2 separate regions of the Homo sapiens genome follow, and region 1 is linked to region 2. Evidence: fine-mapped expression QTL. A gene starts in region 2. The other region holds a variant in brackets. All regions are shown on one strand. Distances are from middle to middle. Region 1 overlaps PLEKHA1 (pleckstrin homology domain containing A1). Region 2 holds the start of PLEKHA1 (pleckstrin homology domain containing A1).

What was found. PIP is the estimated chance that this variant, and not a neighbour inherited with it, causes the effect.
Region 1: its variant is fine-mapped to the expression of PLEKHA1 in whole blood (TOPMed, PIP 0.90).

Annotation. Positions count from the first base shown.
Region 1 is chr10:122,404,606-122,412,949 of GRCh38, reverse strand. It overlaps PLEKHA1 (pleckstrin homology domain containing A1), which reads right to left. Exons shown (of 12, transcript NM_001001974.4): 5 at 6,277-6,374; 6 at 1-30. Among named protein-coding and RNA genes, the nearest start is that of MIR3941, 8.2 kb to the left of the region's middle. The variant G/A (reference allele first, on the strand shown) is at 4,954.
Region 2 is chr10:122,369,933-122,378,276 of GRCh38, reverse strand. PLEKHA1 (pleckstrin homology domain containing A1) reads right to left here and starts at 3,569. Exons shown (of 12, transcript NM_001001974.4): 1 at 3,471-3,569. RefSeq lists silencers at 2,962-3,161, 3,172-3,331, 3,352-3,421, 3,462-3,571, 3,712-3,861.

The DNA.
Region 1 (8,344 bases), 35 kb before region 2:
ATTAGGCTGTGAGTCTGACTGCTTTGGTACCTGAAATAGTAAATAAAATGAATCATTTTGCAACCAGCATTATACATGTGAACCTGTTTTCTCGCAGAATTTCTAATTATTCATCCGTTTGCATACGGTTGACAGATACATATAAAAATTATAGTCCATGTATGTACTCCTTAAGTTATCACACTAATTTTTCTGTTAGAATAATATTTTATAATATAGCTATCACGTAATGAGTGCTTACTCGGGCAGGTACTAGTTCACACATTTTTCTCCTTTACTACTCCTGTCTACCCTATGCATAGGGGCTCTACCCCCACCTAAGAGGTAAGGAAATAGGCTCAGGGGCATTAGGGAATATAGATTCAGATCCTGACTATAATACATTCTAGCCAAGTGTGTGTAACTCTTCCAAGCCCAACTGCTGTGCTCTAGACCCTGTTTATTGGCACACTTACTATTGGCTTACAGCTCTTTGCTGTTTTCTTCCCTTTCTCCATTCCTACCCATGATTCTGGGATTGTGGCATATTCAGTCTTTCCTGGCTTCAAGACAGAGACTATTACCAAAACCATAGTGTATTCAATAAATGTTGAAAGACTCAATGGATGAATCCAAAGTCAGCAGAAAAAAGAATAGCAAAATTCTTAAAACAAATCAGAAGTTTCAAAACAAAACTTTTCATTAGAAATTTAAAGAAGGAATTCCAATACTTGGATCAATGATAAATCGTTCACAAGTACAGGAAAACAATGACTGTGGTAACAGCAGAATCTCACATTAACACCTCACTAAAGTGGATGAAAGAATCAGAGGTATCATAAATTTTTAACATATATTTTTGCTTTTCTTATGTGATCTATTCAGTAAATAAGGTACTCAGTTAATCATTATTTCTATCTGTAGACTGTTTAGCACATAGTCTGTATTTAAATTATACATTTTTAAGGCTGTGAATAAAATGTAATAAAATCTGCTCAGCATCAATTATAATGTTGAACATGATTTAGTCTTCTCCAATGATTTAAAGGGCACGTGGAACCTTGCAGTCTTTCAGAAACACTATGACAAATACTACTGACAATCACTGAAGTAGTGGTGTAGAAACATTTAACTTAAATAGTTTGCTTGTCATATAGCTAATTCCTGTTAATAGAGTACTGGTAGAACTACAGGACACCACTCACATTGTATTCAAAGGCTCAAACCGTTTATTAGTGTGATTCCAAAGCAGTGTGATTTCTCAAACTTTAGAGTGCATAAAGTATCACCCAGGAACATTATTTAAAACTTCAGATTCCCCTGCTTCGAACCCAGAAATTCTGACTCAACATATCTATAGTGCAGCCCAAAAACCTGCACTTTAAGCAAGAACACCAGACATTTTTGAGGCAGGAGTTTCATAAACCACACTTTGAGAAACACTGCTCTAAAACCTGTGCTCTTCTTCCATACGATGCTACTCCCACCAGATTTGTAGAAAAGAGGGTATACAATGCAGATAAGGATTTGCAAAGCAGCTTTCTGCAAAATATTGAGCAAACATGGTCCATGTGTATATGAAAGGATGCTGAGCTACAGTAAGTCCCAATCCACACAAATGTAATTTATGGATATAATAAATGACTTGTCTCTTAAGTGACTTCTAAAACTCCCTCTCCCTTCCTTCTCCACCTGCCTCCCTTGAAGAGGTTTCTCTCAGGCCCCAGGCCCAATCCTCCAGCCTCTGGTTCGTATTCATACTACAATGCCCTCATCCGCAGAAACAAAAGAGAGAGAAAACAGGAAAGAGAAGAGAATCCTGAATACCTCTTGAATTCTTCTAAGAACTTGCACACTTTGGAGTGCTTTTTAAAGACAATAAAATAATGAAGAGAATTTTCCTTGTCAAATAAAATTAGGATAGTATACCCTGGAATGATTTGCTAGGGAAGCCCATTATATTTTCTAATGAATAGCACCATATATTTCAATTATTCTGACAGAGAAAATATGGCCCAGTTATCTCATTGAGAAGAACAGCAACTAGCATTAAGAGAACCTGAAACCAGAGAGAAAACAATCTATTCAACTAGATAAAATGAGAGGTGCTGCTAAGAGGTGACCCATAAGAAAACTAGCAGTTATTCTCTCAAGAAGTTTAGTCAGACCTGGGAATTATTAGGAAAAACCTTTAAAATCATTCTAAAAAATACCGAAATTTATATTGGTTTTTCCATTTTTCTTAAATTACAGTATATTAAAAGTCCTTGCTTATGCTGTTAAGCTCACTGCTTCTAATTTGTCTTTATAATAAAATCAAATGCTAGTAGTTAACTTAGAACTGCATTTTACTATAAAAATTATCTAACTTGTAATCATCTTATTCCCTAAGAACAAGAAAAGTTCAAGCAAAATACCCATGAACATGGATAACTCCTCTAAAAACAATATGTACCTCTGTAAAACTTGGTCTAAATTCAGCCATTAAGATAGACATTTTCAGGACACACCCCTGCCCCAAACCATCCAACTGTCCAATGAAAATCAGAAAAGTGATCTCACTGGGCAGTTGGCACATGTCAGACACTGAATCCACTTGGTTTCTTTGTCTACTGCCTCTCTCCCTTTCCTTGGCTTTCTATCCTTTTTTATGTCCCAGCATTTTTTGTAGGAGATCTGAATGTAATCTTGGCAGGCATTTGCATGTGATCCTAGTAGTAGGAAATTCTAATAGTAGGAAAAGAAAAGGTAAAAATAACTAGAGAATAAAAAGATGAACAAGACAGATTTAAGTATTTATGAGTGAAATACATAAAAACGCTGCAGGTTTCTCAAAAGTTAAAGGGAAAGTTGATATTCAATTCACCAAGAATGAAAATATAATGTTGGGCTAGGCGCGGTGGCTCACGCCTGTAATCCCAGCACTTTGGGAGGCCAAGCTGGGCGGATCACTTGAGGCCAGGAGTTTTAAAACCAACCTGGACAACATGGCGAAACCCAGTCTCTACTAAAAGTACAAAAATTAGCTGGCTGTGGTGGCACACACCTGTAATCCCAGCTACTTAGGAGGCTGAGGGCTCAAGAATCACTTGAACCCCGGTGGCGGAGGCTGCAGTGAGCTGGGATAGCACCACTGTACTCCAGCCTGGGCAACACAGCGAGACTCTGTCTCAAAAAAAAAAAAAAGGATAAAAAGAAAGAATGAAATTGTCATAATGTTCAATTCACTGAGGATAAAAACGTGCAGACACAAACTCCTGGGTCTTACAATCTTTCTGAGAATTCTACATCTACTTGTTTCCAGTTTCTATTAAAAATATATCAAACTTGTGGAGTTTCTGCCACAAATTCAAAGTACTAATTTTTAGATTCAAATCGAACATTTATTTTTAAATTTTAAAAAAGACATGTTTAAAAATAATGGATCTCTGTTCAGGAATAAACCATATATATCTTAGACATTCCTTAATAATCAATAAGGGAACAGAAACCACCATATTTATGTTGTTTCCACTATATTTCCACTATATATATTTCCACTATAAATGAACAGTGGAAAGCATACTTTAAAATTTGATTTTCCTCACTCCAGTCATTGATACTCCCCCTTCGGGGCTGATTCTCCCACTGTTGCTCTTTTCCTTTTTGTGCGTATGTTTAATACAGATGGTCCAGGACTTACAATGGTTCAATTTTTCAACTTTACAAGTGGGTTTGTTGGGGTATTAAATGGATTTTCAACTTGTGTTTTTGACTTACAATAGGTTTATAAGGATGTAACCCCATCATAAGTTGAAAAGCAACTGTAAAGGGAAAAGAATTTCAAGTGGCACCCACCTAGACTCAAGTAAGGAAAGTCACAGACTATAGCGTTAGAGGATAATGGATTAAAATGGCAAGATATTATAACTAGGAAATAGTTTAAAAATCATCATTCCCTTACCCATTGCCCTCTAACCACCTCTATTTTGAAACCACACACTTCCAAACTCTAATTTTGGATTTCCAAAATTTTAAAATTTATATATCACACAGTACTTAGCAGACCACTAAATTAGAGTTGACCAAAATGAGAGTGATCCCATAGAAAGATTTATGTATTAAGTACATACATCAAAATGTACATTTTAAGTTTTCAAATAATCTACATGTAAATCATCAGCAATGTTCACAGGAAAATATAACAAATTGGAGATTCCACACTTTAATACACTTAAATGTATAAAATGCACATGAAACTGGTAAGATATTTTTAAGGAATAAAATTAACATAAAGCATCTTATTAAAGCATAGGAAATTATTTCATTGCTATCCTATGAGTTAAATGTGTGTCTATCAAAAGTTTATTTTTAATAAGTACTATCAAATCTATACTCACTTTAATGCAGTTATAACCACTTTATTAAGTAATAAGGATTTCTATAACTTCTATGTATTTATATTTTCCAAATGTGAATTATAAAAACATTAAAATCATTTACCAACAAATTTATCTTAAAAACTATAAAAATTTCAACAGGTAAAATAAAATTGCAAGACCACAAAAGCTACTTAGAAGTCTTTTTAGAATTCTATTTAGAATCTCTAACCTGTTTTTCCTTCATGCTGAAAAGCTTACCAGTGTCATTTGTATAAGACTGTTTCATACCATTGATAAATCAGACATAGCAATTCAAGACCCCCCAAAATGGTAAAAAGCCTGAGACCATTCACTACTTTTTCTCTTAAAGCACTAAGAAACCAGTGCTGCTTGTTATTGCAAATGGTAAAACATGAATTTAGTACAGTTACGAGATATTATCTTTCTAAAGAAATTTTTCAAGCAGGGAATATTTATTAGAAGAGTTAAAATGATTAGCTAAAAGCTTTTAAGAATATGTATGTCTGAATCAGGTTAAAAAATTGCTTTCCTGACACTGCACAAACCTAAAATAACTTCTGCTTCATGTACAGATCAGATGCGGTGCGTAGGC[G/A]TTTTCTGTCATGTGGTAACAAGCTGTTCTAGAGCAAAACAAAAAGATTCGACTAAACTCTGAGAACAGCTTTAACTATATTGACTCTTTATTGTGTTGTGATATAAATAGGAAATTATTCATTTTAGATGGAAACTAATGAGTGACTAACATATGCTGACTTTCAGGGCACATGTTCTTTGAGAATAAGTCACTTAGGGTCAGTATATAACTGCACTTTCTTTAAAAAAAACAAAAACAAAAACGCAATTGACACAAATCTCACAACACAAGAACTCCTTCCCAACATTTTCCAGGCAGGCCTGCTATGTATTTCTCTACAAAAGTGTAAAGGGAAAGGTGAGGCAAGGTATAATCAAAATAGAGCCTATCTACGTGCTGCTCATCATCACTAGCAAACTCTCTCAGTAAAGGTTGTTGTTGGCTTTAGGAACAAAAGAGTAAGGAGAGGGCTGTTCTTGTTCAGGAAGCAGTAAGGCACTGCACTTCAGAGTTCGGGCTCCAGAGGCCAAAAAACTGGACTGGGCTTCCAGCTCCATAATCTACCAGCTATAACACTGGTAGATTAATCTTTCTAAGCCTCACTTTTCCAGTTCATTTAAGTAAAACCTTCGGTCTAAGATCTGGCACAGTGTTAATAATCAATAAATATTCATCAGGAAACCAAAAAAGAAAAGAAGCACACATTAGAAGCAAGAAATTGTAGCATGGGAAAGGAGGGCAAGGGTACCAAGCCCTGGAATGCAAGGAAAAAAATCAGACATGGGAAGAAGTTTAGAGCCTGAGACAAACTTCTCAAGGGTCACATGGACAGGACCCTCTGGCTGCCGCAACCCTTCAGACACTATTCCTATCCCTAACCCTCATTTTTCAGCCTTCATCTCCCCTTGTCCTGCTCCTGTTTTCAACTCTTTCCCTATCTGACCCCAATCCCAGTCATGGCTTAGAAGAGAGAAGTGCCTATTCCCCAGGTAGGTGACAGGAAATCTCTTACACTATATTGGAAGAAAAATATATATCCTCCCGGTAGAACTCTACGTGCTAAGCGCATTTTCTCCTAGAAACGTTGCAAGAAGTGATTAAGATCTGCAGTAATATATCTCCTTATTAGGTGCATAAGTTAAAAAGACAATCATGGGCTGATTAAAGTGCCAACAGTCACCAAGTACAAGAAAACATATTCACATTCTGAACACCTGTCTTTTAAACAAAGCTTGAGTATGAAACCTGTTGGTAAGCTGGGAACATTTGGTAGGTGTATTTTCAAAATGAAAAGATTAATTCCAGACATCGAACGTTTTTCAAAAAAATACATATACTTACTGTAATTTTTATAGCTTTGTTTAACACATTTACCCATTCCACTAGGTCCTGCTGATCATTGGCTTGTAGGAAGTACTTCCTCATTCCTGCATTCATAACTGTTGACAGAAAAAAATAACACACCAAATATTGTACTTATTACCTCTAAATTTATGTTTGCAGTAGCTGAAAAACCTTGCTAAGTTCAACACCGTGACTCTCGTGGATTTGACAAAATATATCAGACCACATGTAATACAGCTTTTATCACACAATAACACAGGTAAAACTCTTATTTTGTTATGGCCATTTTGTTTATTAAATGGATACACCACAATACATTTAGTCAATCCCCTAATGATAGACACTTAGGCTATTTCCGGTTTTTGAAATTATATAAAATATCACAATGAAACATCATATACATATATTTCTCCACACTTGGCTAGCATTTCTGGGTGATAAATTTCTTGACATAGATTTGTTGGGTCAAAGACAATTGACATTTAAACTTTTTATAGGTATTTCCAAATCATCTTCCCACAAAGTTGAATCCATTCACATTCCTACCAACCACATACACATTTTATTTCATCGAATACCCCTCACCAGAACTGGTTGTTAGCACCTGTGGATACCTCTAGTTTCTAGTTTTCAAAGGCTCTGTGGCACTGGGGCTGGTAGTCTGCAAACAATATTTCCTAGACCCCATCTGAGGCCATTCTCTGCCACTGGGAGGTACTGATGAGAGACTGTAAGGTGGGAGAGGGGAGAAGGAAAGAGGAGACTCTCCTTGACTCCTGCTGTTGTTGACCTCTCTCCAACAGCAGCACACAACTAGCTACTGTTAGGAGCCTTTTCCTGCCCCCTATGCCAGCCTTGCAGAGTCCCCTTGGATACTAATAGCTCCATGGTGGCTTCTACTCCACTGCCCTAGGTTATAGTAATACTACTACCCCTTCTCTTTTGTCTCTCTAGCCCTTGAGTAGTAGTTGCTTCATGCGTCTAATTCCTGGGTTACTTCAGCATTCCCTTCATGTTCTTTCAGCCTTCCAATATTTGGGTAACCAATTCCCCATAACAAATCCCTTAGGTTTGAAATATCTAGTGTGCTGTTTTCCTGGCTAATACTCTTTAACAACCTAATTGGTAAATAATTGTACCTTGTTCAAATTTTAATTTCTTTGGTTATTGAGATAAATTAGTTTTGTAAGTTTATTGGCCATCTGCATTTATTTTGTAAGTTTTGTTTACTTTCTTTACCCACGTTTCTCCTGAATTCATTATTAATTTATAGCAACTTCTTTATTAATCTTTTCTGCTTTATTACCAATACTTTACCCAGTCTGTTTTACTTTAACAGTATTTTTGATCAGACAGAAATATACTATGAATCTTTTCTATAAATGCATCCAGATTTCATATCATCTAGAAAATCTCCCTAACTTAAGATCTATTTTTCTAGACCTTATGAATTTCCTTTATATTTTGAATCTTAATACATTTGGAACTTTTATGCAATTTAGTTTCTATATTCCCCTTTAGGGACTAGGTACTTTTATCAAGCAAAGCACATGTGCACATACAGTTGTCTATAAACTATCATAGTCCACTCTTGAATTAAAGCTATTTATTATACACCATCTGCATTTATTTTTAAAAGCATAAATATTATTCTAGGAGCTAAGTATCTGAATAGTTATACTGTTGCAATTGTTCAAATATAAAAATAACTTCCAAACGTCTCCACCAAAATTTTAAAAGATATACTAGCACACAGTTCAATGTGACTGAGAAGGGGAAATGCAAACTCTCAAGGAAAACACACAAGATTTTGAAATTGGGACTGAGACCAAAACACTCTAAACTACAGCTTCCTTGAATTGAGATGAAGGTCTCAGAAAGGAAGTCAAAGCCTATCTTGTAAAGTGCTACAAAACAACCAGTCTATAACCTTAAAAGAAATTTAACACACTGGAAATCTGTTCTTGTACATCTTTCTAGAGACTGGAAAAGTTATAACTGCCATAAATATGTATTAAGATAAATCCATAATTCACTAGGATGCTATATCTATCAATAAATAACT
Region 2 (8,344 bases):
ATAACCTGATGACATATGCAATAGCATTCTCATCCTTAATAATGGGAGGGAACACCTGACATGGAAATTCTCAGGAGGGATTTACTGTACCGGGTAAGATGCTACATTAGAAGCCCTCTGACATCACTTCCAATTCTAGTGCCTGTGATCGTCTTTTCCTTCAAGAGGTTAAATTCAATCCAGAATCTAGAGTTCAATGGTTAAACCATAAAAGGCTAGGCTGCCTAAAGGGCTAAAAACCACAACTTTCTGGAGAATAAAGCTATCAGACTGACAAGCCTGGTAAGAGTTCCATGTAGGAAACAATATTTTGCTCTAAAACTTATTTAACTTAAAAAAATCTTAAATGACTAATTTTCTTTTATATCCAACAGAAATTCCAGTTCAAAGAAAGCTTATAAAATCCCAAAAACCCTATCTTCCTGAATATTATCAATTCAACTAATTAAAAGGCTTACTAAAATAAATAGCAAACATATGTTTGCTTAAGCATCTTCTAGGAATCACAAACTCACATATCCCTTATTAGACAGTACCCACAAGAAAAAAAGTTACTTAGGGTCAAATGGTTTAATATTGCTCAGTAAGTGTAAGAGAGTTCTAGTGCTATAACAAATAACAGGATGCTTTATGTTTACATAAAAACATCCCATATTTTTATGTTTCTAAAAATAATTAAGCATTATAAACAATCATCTAAAGCTACCAAGTTTTCTGCCCTTTCTGAAAGCATTCCTTTCAGACACCATGTCAATAAATTCTTAAATGCTGGATGTGTACTCACAAATGGTCAAAAAACCTAAAACCAAATCTTAATATTTAACTCCTATTGAAGTCATTTTATTGTATCATTGCAGATCTAAAACAAGATTTTTTAATCTTGAAATTTAAATTTTAATATTAACAAAAGTAAACTGCTCCAGCATGAGAAAAGTAATTATTTGCATATTACCTCAGCTCACAGTTGGAATCAAATAGGAAATACTTTAAGGCAGTTAGTTATATCAACCCAAAATTTTCTAATAAAAGCAATGTTACTATTGTCACAAATAATTACTACACTATATTCAGAAAACTATCTTCCCCATTCTCAAATAAGTTATTTAAACAATAATGACTTGACATCAAGCAATATGTCAATGTCAAAGTATGACTTAAATTATATTAATAAACTATTTATTAGATTTCATTCTGGGTTACAAATTATCACACAATTAAAATAACTTCGGGATTTGCAGCATGACTAATAATAATAAAGAACTTCCAGGCTTAAGTCAAAAAGCCACTTTGTTTAAATCTCCATTAAATGTTTTTTGTGGGGGGAAGTCCCCATAAAAATGTAAAATGTTTCCACCTTTCCCAAGTATCTTCCTAGGAGTGGTCAATATTGTCATATCCTATATGTTAGCAAACGATACTTGAATGACTTTTAAAGAAAAGAATCCAATGCTATTCTTAACATCCTTAAACACTTCTAAAAAGGTCCTTCCGGCTTATGAACTCATGGCAGTTTCCTCACAATTGTATACTTATCCTGTTTCACTGTCTCTCCTAGTCTATGACAAACTCAATTTTACACACCATCTTTCCTATTTTGTTACACTGCTAAAACTGGGGAGAAAAAAAGATACAAACCTGCTACTTTCCCCCCTCCCAAAGCGACAATGAAAATACTAATTAACAAGATAAAGATTGGAAGCTCTGCGCGCGCCCGCGCGGTGTGTATACACATATATTTATATTATATATATATATATATATATATATATATATATCTTCTTAATGTCACTAAATTCACAGCCATATATCTTGATACAGGTATACGCTACAAGAGAAAACTGTCAGTAGATACAGTGTAAGGTTTACGGCAGTATAAAATAAATTAACTACTTTATTAATTCAAATTCTGTCAAACTTAAATACTCTTTTTTAAATGTATCAGTACTCTAAAATGCAATTTTCCTTGGGAAAATTGGCCAAGATAAAAAATACTTTAACTCCACTAGGGGAAATATTTCTTTTGCCACAAGTGTGTCAACAGGAAAAATTAAGAGCATGAAAAGTAAACAGGTATTTTGATCAGAATAAATCTTATTATTTTAATATAACGGGTCTTCAAGTTCTTCAGATTGTGAAGAAAAACACAGTTTCACAAAACAATCACATAACTCTTACCCAAACTTTGCTGTAAATGGTTTCAGTGGCATCAAATTAACATAGAAAGTATGCAAGCTGAGTACTTGGGAAAATAAAGCAGATTGATCAGGAGTTCTAAGATGAAAGACAATGGTGTAAACCTCATAGTGCACTATTTGTTCCAGTCATTAAACACACAGGAAATAAGATTTTCTATTTAGAAAACTAACTCACAAGGGGCAATGACTTCATTAAAACAAAGAAAATCTTATTAAAACAACGATCAATTGTAAAATAAGAAAACCAGTACTGCAGAATTGGAAGGTGAAACAAACAGACGAGGAAAACGCAGAAACTGCCTGGATATTTATTTGTTCCTTGAACCTCTTCTTGTACTGCCCCCAGAGAGCAAAGGAGTTTCATTATTTATACGCCCAGACCACGGTAGATGCTCTGCGCGGGGGCACAGCCTCACCAGAATTCTACCAAAGGCGGTAAACACTATAAGCAACAGGACCGCTTTCATTATGACACACTTTCCCCTCTTTCCAGGAGGTCAATAGAAAGCATCTGAAACAAACCACAAACCACTCAAGACGGCCCCAAAGCTCTGCGGTTGGCAGCTGGCCTCGGCGTCGAAAGACCTGGGTCTGGTCGCCTCCCCGGTGCCACCTGCGTGACCTTGGGCAAGTCGCTTTCAACGCTGCCTCTGGCCACCTGCCCCGAAGGTGCGGAGGTAAATCGCGGACACCGCCCGACTTCAGGGCCCAGGGCGGAGCCGGCTTCGGCCTCGGCAAGTCCTGAAGCCAAAATGCATTAAACACCAGGAAAGGATGCCCGGGGACGCGCGCCCCGCGGGCACAGCCCTGGAGGGAGGCGCTCCGACCGGCGCCACCGGGAATCCCCGGGCAGCTGCGCGCACCGCGCCCCGAGCGGGATTTCTCGGGGGGCGGAGACGCCGAGGAGCTCGTCGGCCCCGCGACCGCCGCGGGCCTCCCGCCCTCCCCCGCCGGGCGCCGCTGAGGGCTGACGTCGGGAAAACAATCGGGGACCCACGGGAAGAAGACGCCGCCCCCTCCCGCTGCCCCAAGCCAGGGCAGGTGAGCCGGCCCGGCGGCCTCCAGGTGCTGTGGCGCGTGGCGCGGACGTGCGCAGAGGGGGCGCCGGCTCCGCACTCACCAGCACCCACCGCCCCTCTGCGGACGCCTCCCCGCTCGCCACAGCGGGAACCGCGCTCCAGCAGCCCGGCAGCCCCGCAGCCGCCGCCACCTCGCGCCTGGCCCCGTCCACCACCCCTGCTCCAGCGCGGCCGCGTTCTTCAAGCTAAACTTTACCGCGGCCTCGGCCCGGAGCACCCGCGCCGCCGCGGCCCCGGCTCCCACAGAGGCTCGGCTGCCCGGAGCGGCGTCCGCGACGGCCAGCCCGCGCACTGCGCACGCGTCCCCACGCTGCCTCAGCCCTCAGACGGCGGCTGAGATTCCGGAGCGGGCGCTCCCAGCCCGCAGAGACTACGAGTCCCGGCAGGCCCCGCGCGGGTCCCTGCGGCGTGGCGGGCCGAGTTTCTGGCGTCTTCCTGGTTCCAGCGGCGGCGGCCTCGGCGCGCCGGGGAGGCCTGCGCGCGGAGCTCTGGGCCGCCGCGCCGCGGTGCTTCCTGGTATTCGTAGTTTTTGACCACCACTGGGCTTGGCTCGGAGGTAGAACTCCGGGTTCTCTGATGTCATCGCCTAGAGCTGCGAGGAACAGGGATCTTTAAAAATAGGCTTCGTTAGTTTGCAGATAATTTGTTTGCAAGCTGTCCCATAATCGGTCCAAGTGTCACAAATTTACAGGCTGCGGTGTGACCTGGAGAAAAACGCTTTACAGCTCTGCGCGCCAATTTTTCGCTCTTCTCTCTCCCTGCAAATGTAGCTCCACTGCCTACTTACAATGGTGTTAATAGTACAGGAGGGTAAGAGAGACTTAAAGAAGGGTTAGTCGAAATTCTTTCAGCAACGGTGGAGCATAAATATGTATTCTGGTAAATATTCGTTGAGTGTTTAGCAATTTCTCGAGCACTTAACTGTGTGCCAAGTACGCGATAGGCAACCCGGCATTCATCTGAGAAAGAGACACTGTCACTGCCCTTATGGAGCCTGCAGCTTGGGGGAAACTCGTCCGCAAACTAGCAAAATCGTTCCAGATTTTAATAGAATGGCCAGACTGAGAAAGTTCAAGAGACAGTAGCGGTGGCGGGGACGGGGGGAGGCTCTTCAGAGAGAGTGGCAAGGCAAGTTCTCTGAGGATGTGATATCTGAGCTGAAACCTGAAGAATGAGAAATATTCAGACAGGCAAAGAACTGGGAAAGAATTACATGCCACGCCTTTCACAGCGCATGCCACTCTAGGCTCTTAATAAATATTTGTTCTTTTTGTGTGCTTCTTCCTTTCCTCTCCTTGCACAACCTTAGATCACATCCTATCCCCTTCAAACCCTTTAAAAAATCTTTATCAACATCTTTTAGAATATCCTTCCTATGTGAAAATGTACATGAAACAAATGTCCAGTGGTAAGACAAGCTGTACAGCTGCTAGGACAGAAGACACAACCCTGGTGACAGGCTGGAATCTATCTACTTTGCCACTTTCTTTATTTGCGAACTGGGTTAGAAGTCTGGGGGCTCAGCCTGGCCTCCTGACTTGTTTCTCTTCATGGGGCATCATACAGGATTTTGAGTTTGTCTTTATTAAAATCTTAGAGGAAGCCTACCTGTTATCTGAATCAGAGGTGTAGTGAAGAACAGCCCTAGATTTTCCTGTGTAGACTTACCTATGTGACTTTATGCAGAGAGTGACACTTTGCCCTTCTGACCCTCAGTGACCTCGACTGTAAATGAGTGTCATCCACCCTGCCTGCCTTGCAGAATGTTCTCAGAGTCTGATAAATTGATGGAGGTGAAAACATCTTGCAAACTGCATAGAACGGCTCTCTGACTGCCTCTTTGAGACTTAGCATTTTCAATTGCCTTTCATCCAACGTGATATTTTGGTTATCTTTTGAGAAACCTTAGCTATGCAGCCTTGCTGACATCTGTCCCTTTTGGGGTCCTCATCTGTATAATGGTTGAAAGGGTTTGGCCTCACTATAGTTTATAAAGTAGCCAGAGCAGATTGTTTCCTTTGGTCCACACAGTGGGTTTTTGTTGATTTAACTGAATGTGTGGTTAACATTTAAAAATAAAAATCTAGGTGTCACCTGTCTTATCCCTGTAGGCATTTGAGTTTGCCTTCCCTGGCTAGAAGGTCTGGAAGGAGTCTCTAGCTTGTCAGTGCTAGAATCCTAGAAGATTCCAGATGGGAAATTTGTTTATTTGAAATTCAAAGTCAAATTCACATCTTTTATTTGATCTGAAAATACTGGTCCTGAGAATAGAACACTTAGGCCAAGAGCCTCTCACCCTCTCCAGGCTGGACCCGCCGGATCTCTCTCCTAAATGTTGTTTGACATCATTGATGAGTGGTTTGAAATTGTTCCTTTGGCCAATGTGATGGCTCCTGCTTGTAATCCCAGCACTTTGGGAGGCCAAGGTGGGCGGATCACTTGAGGTCAGGAGTTTGAGACCAGCCTGGCCAACATGGTGAAACCCCCTCTACTTAGCCAGGCATGGTGGTGGGCACCTGTAGTCCCAGCTACTCGGGAGGCTGAGGCAGGAGAATCAACTGAACCCACGTGATGGAGGTTGCAGTGAGCTGAGATCGTGCCACTCTACTCCAGCCTGGGGGACAGAACGGGACTCAAGAAAAAAAAATTGCTCCTTTGTTCTTTTTGCATAACAAGTCCCCAAAACTGTTTATCATTGAGAGCCATATTTACATACAGTAAAGAAAGCCAGAAAAGTAACTCAGTTTGCCCAAGGACACACAACAAGATAATCCCAGGACTGCTTTGAGGTTGCAGTATAACCAGAACTTCATAGCTCCCGATCAGCCAATAAATACAGAGACAAAAAAAAAAAGCTCTCTGCTTTTCTTCCAGCCTCTTTTTTTTTGGATGCAGAGGTTTATTACATAACAGTGCTTTCAGTGCTATTTAAAAAAAAAATAGTACAGGGAAATTACAGTCTGGGAGCAAACCAAGAACACTCAGGACTCACTGAAGGCACTGAGGAATGCTGGAATATTCCATGGCTACTTTTCATCTGAAGAAAAAGGAGGAGTCTGAATTCAAGGATCTATAGTTTAGCTGTTTACTTTTTTTTTTTTTTCTGCCGGAAGGGACAGAGTCTCGCTCTGTCGCCCAGGCTGGAGTGTGGTGGCACAATCCCAGCTCACTGCAACCGCTGCCTCTGAATTCAAGTGATTCTCCTGCCTCAGCCTCCCAAGTAGCTGGGATTACAGGTGCCTGCCACCATGACAGGCTAATTTTTGTATTTTTAGTAGAGTCAGGGTTTCTCCATGTTGGTCAGGCTGATCTCGAACTCCTGACCTCAAGTGATCTACCCCCCTCCTCAGCCTCCCAAAGTTCTGGGATTACAGGTGTGAGCCACTGCCCCAGCCTGCAGTTTACCTTTAAAGTATCACTGTCATCATTATCATCATGCTTTGCACGTGTGAAGTACGTTGATGTTTCATTCAAAAATAGCTCTTGGGCCCCTTCCATATGCTTAGTGCTGGGCTCTGGGGCTTCCAGACAGACGTCAGCCCCTCTGACAACACAAAAAGCAGCGTACAGAGGCACGCAGAAAGCTCCTGAATGCTAGTCACCTCTCTAATATTTGATGTCTGCAGCATTTCCTGCATTATCTTTTTCCCCTTAGCAATGGTCACTTTTGTACATATTATATATGTGCATATATATTTTTTTTTCTGCATATCCCTCTAAACTGTAACCTCCACGTGGCCAGGGATTTTATGTTTTGTTCCTGCTTGTATCCTTAGTGCCTACAACAGAAGTATGTGTTGAATGATGAATGCCACAGTCCCCTTTATGGACAGAGCCAGCATCAGAAGCCAAGCAGAAGGAGTACCTCCAGAAGCAAACCTCTGTTCTAACCAGAAATCAGAACCAAGATAGAACAAGAATTAAACATGAACTGAACACTCTCTGAACCCGGCTTTGTTCTTTTTGTGTCCCCTCCAGAAACTGGGTAGCAGAGAGTTAAAAACGGCTTTTCCCTATTTTTTAGTGTAAAAATGGCACAAGAACTCCAGGCAGCGAGTCAGTGGAGTTGCTTCTGTGGGTGAAGAGTCGGAGCTGGCTTTCTGACCCTGCCTCACAACTGGCAATGACCAAGTGAGGGGAAGCATGATTCTCAGTAATCACCCCAAGCAGGCACAGATTAAGTGACCTTCCCAGATTACCAATCAGGTGACTGGAGTCTCCTTCTGGAGCTAATTCTTGCATCCCAGGGCTGGGGCAGAACAATCCTCCTTCAGGAAGGTGCCACGAAAGATTGTCCACATTTTATGCTTACCAAGGTGGAAGAATAGGATTTCTGAAAAAGTCAGCAACCAGCCCAAATTCCAGGCCCACACAGGAAAAAAAACAAAAAACAAAAAACAAAAAACTGGGCATCCGGGGAGATGCTTGCCTCCAAGACTTGTAGAGAGCAGAACTAGGTCTTTCCTGCCTTAGGATTATCAGACAAGGAAGGGAGCCCAACACTGAACATCTGGGTTGGACAGGATCTAAAGTTGCTGAAAGCCACTGGAGTTCTAAAGGTCCCCAGCAACCCTATGATCTCTGGGGGTCTGGTGGGTTCCAGCTGCATCTACACCCTAGTTAGGTCATACATTAATTACCCTGACCACATGTGGCAGGCCTGGGATGGTGGTAAACCCTAAAATTGCAGAGCACAGGATGCTTGCTGTCATCCAAACATACGGACTCTTGCTCCAATGTGGTGTGAAAACTTGAAAAACAAGATTTTCTGAATCAAGATGATCATCCAGGGCCACACTTGGGTTGCTAATTGCAGCACTGAAGTAGGGAGCATTCTAGAAGGTGAAGACTCCTTGCAAACAAAGCTGGGAGAGAGGATCTGGGAACAAGTCCATCTTGGGCTTCACAAGCTCCTTGGCCTGGGGGAATTGTACCCTCAGACCCCTTCCCCTTACCAGACAGGGCACAGTGGCTCACGCCTGTAATTCCAGCACTTTGAGAGCGAGATGCAGGCGGATCACAAGGTCAGGAGTTCAAGACCAGCCTGGCCAATATGATGAAACCCCATCT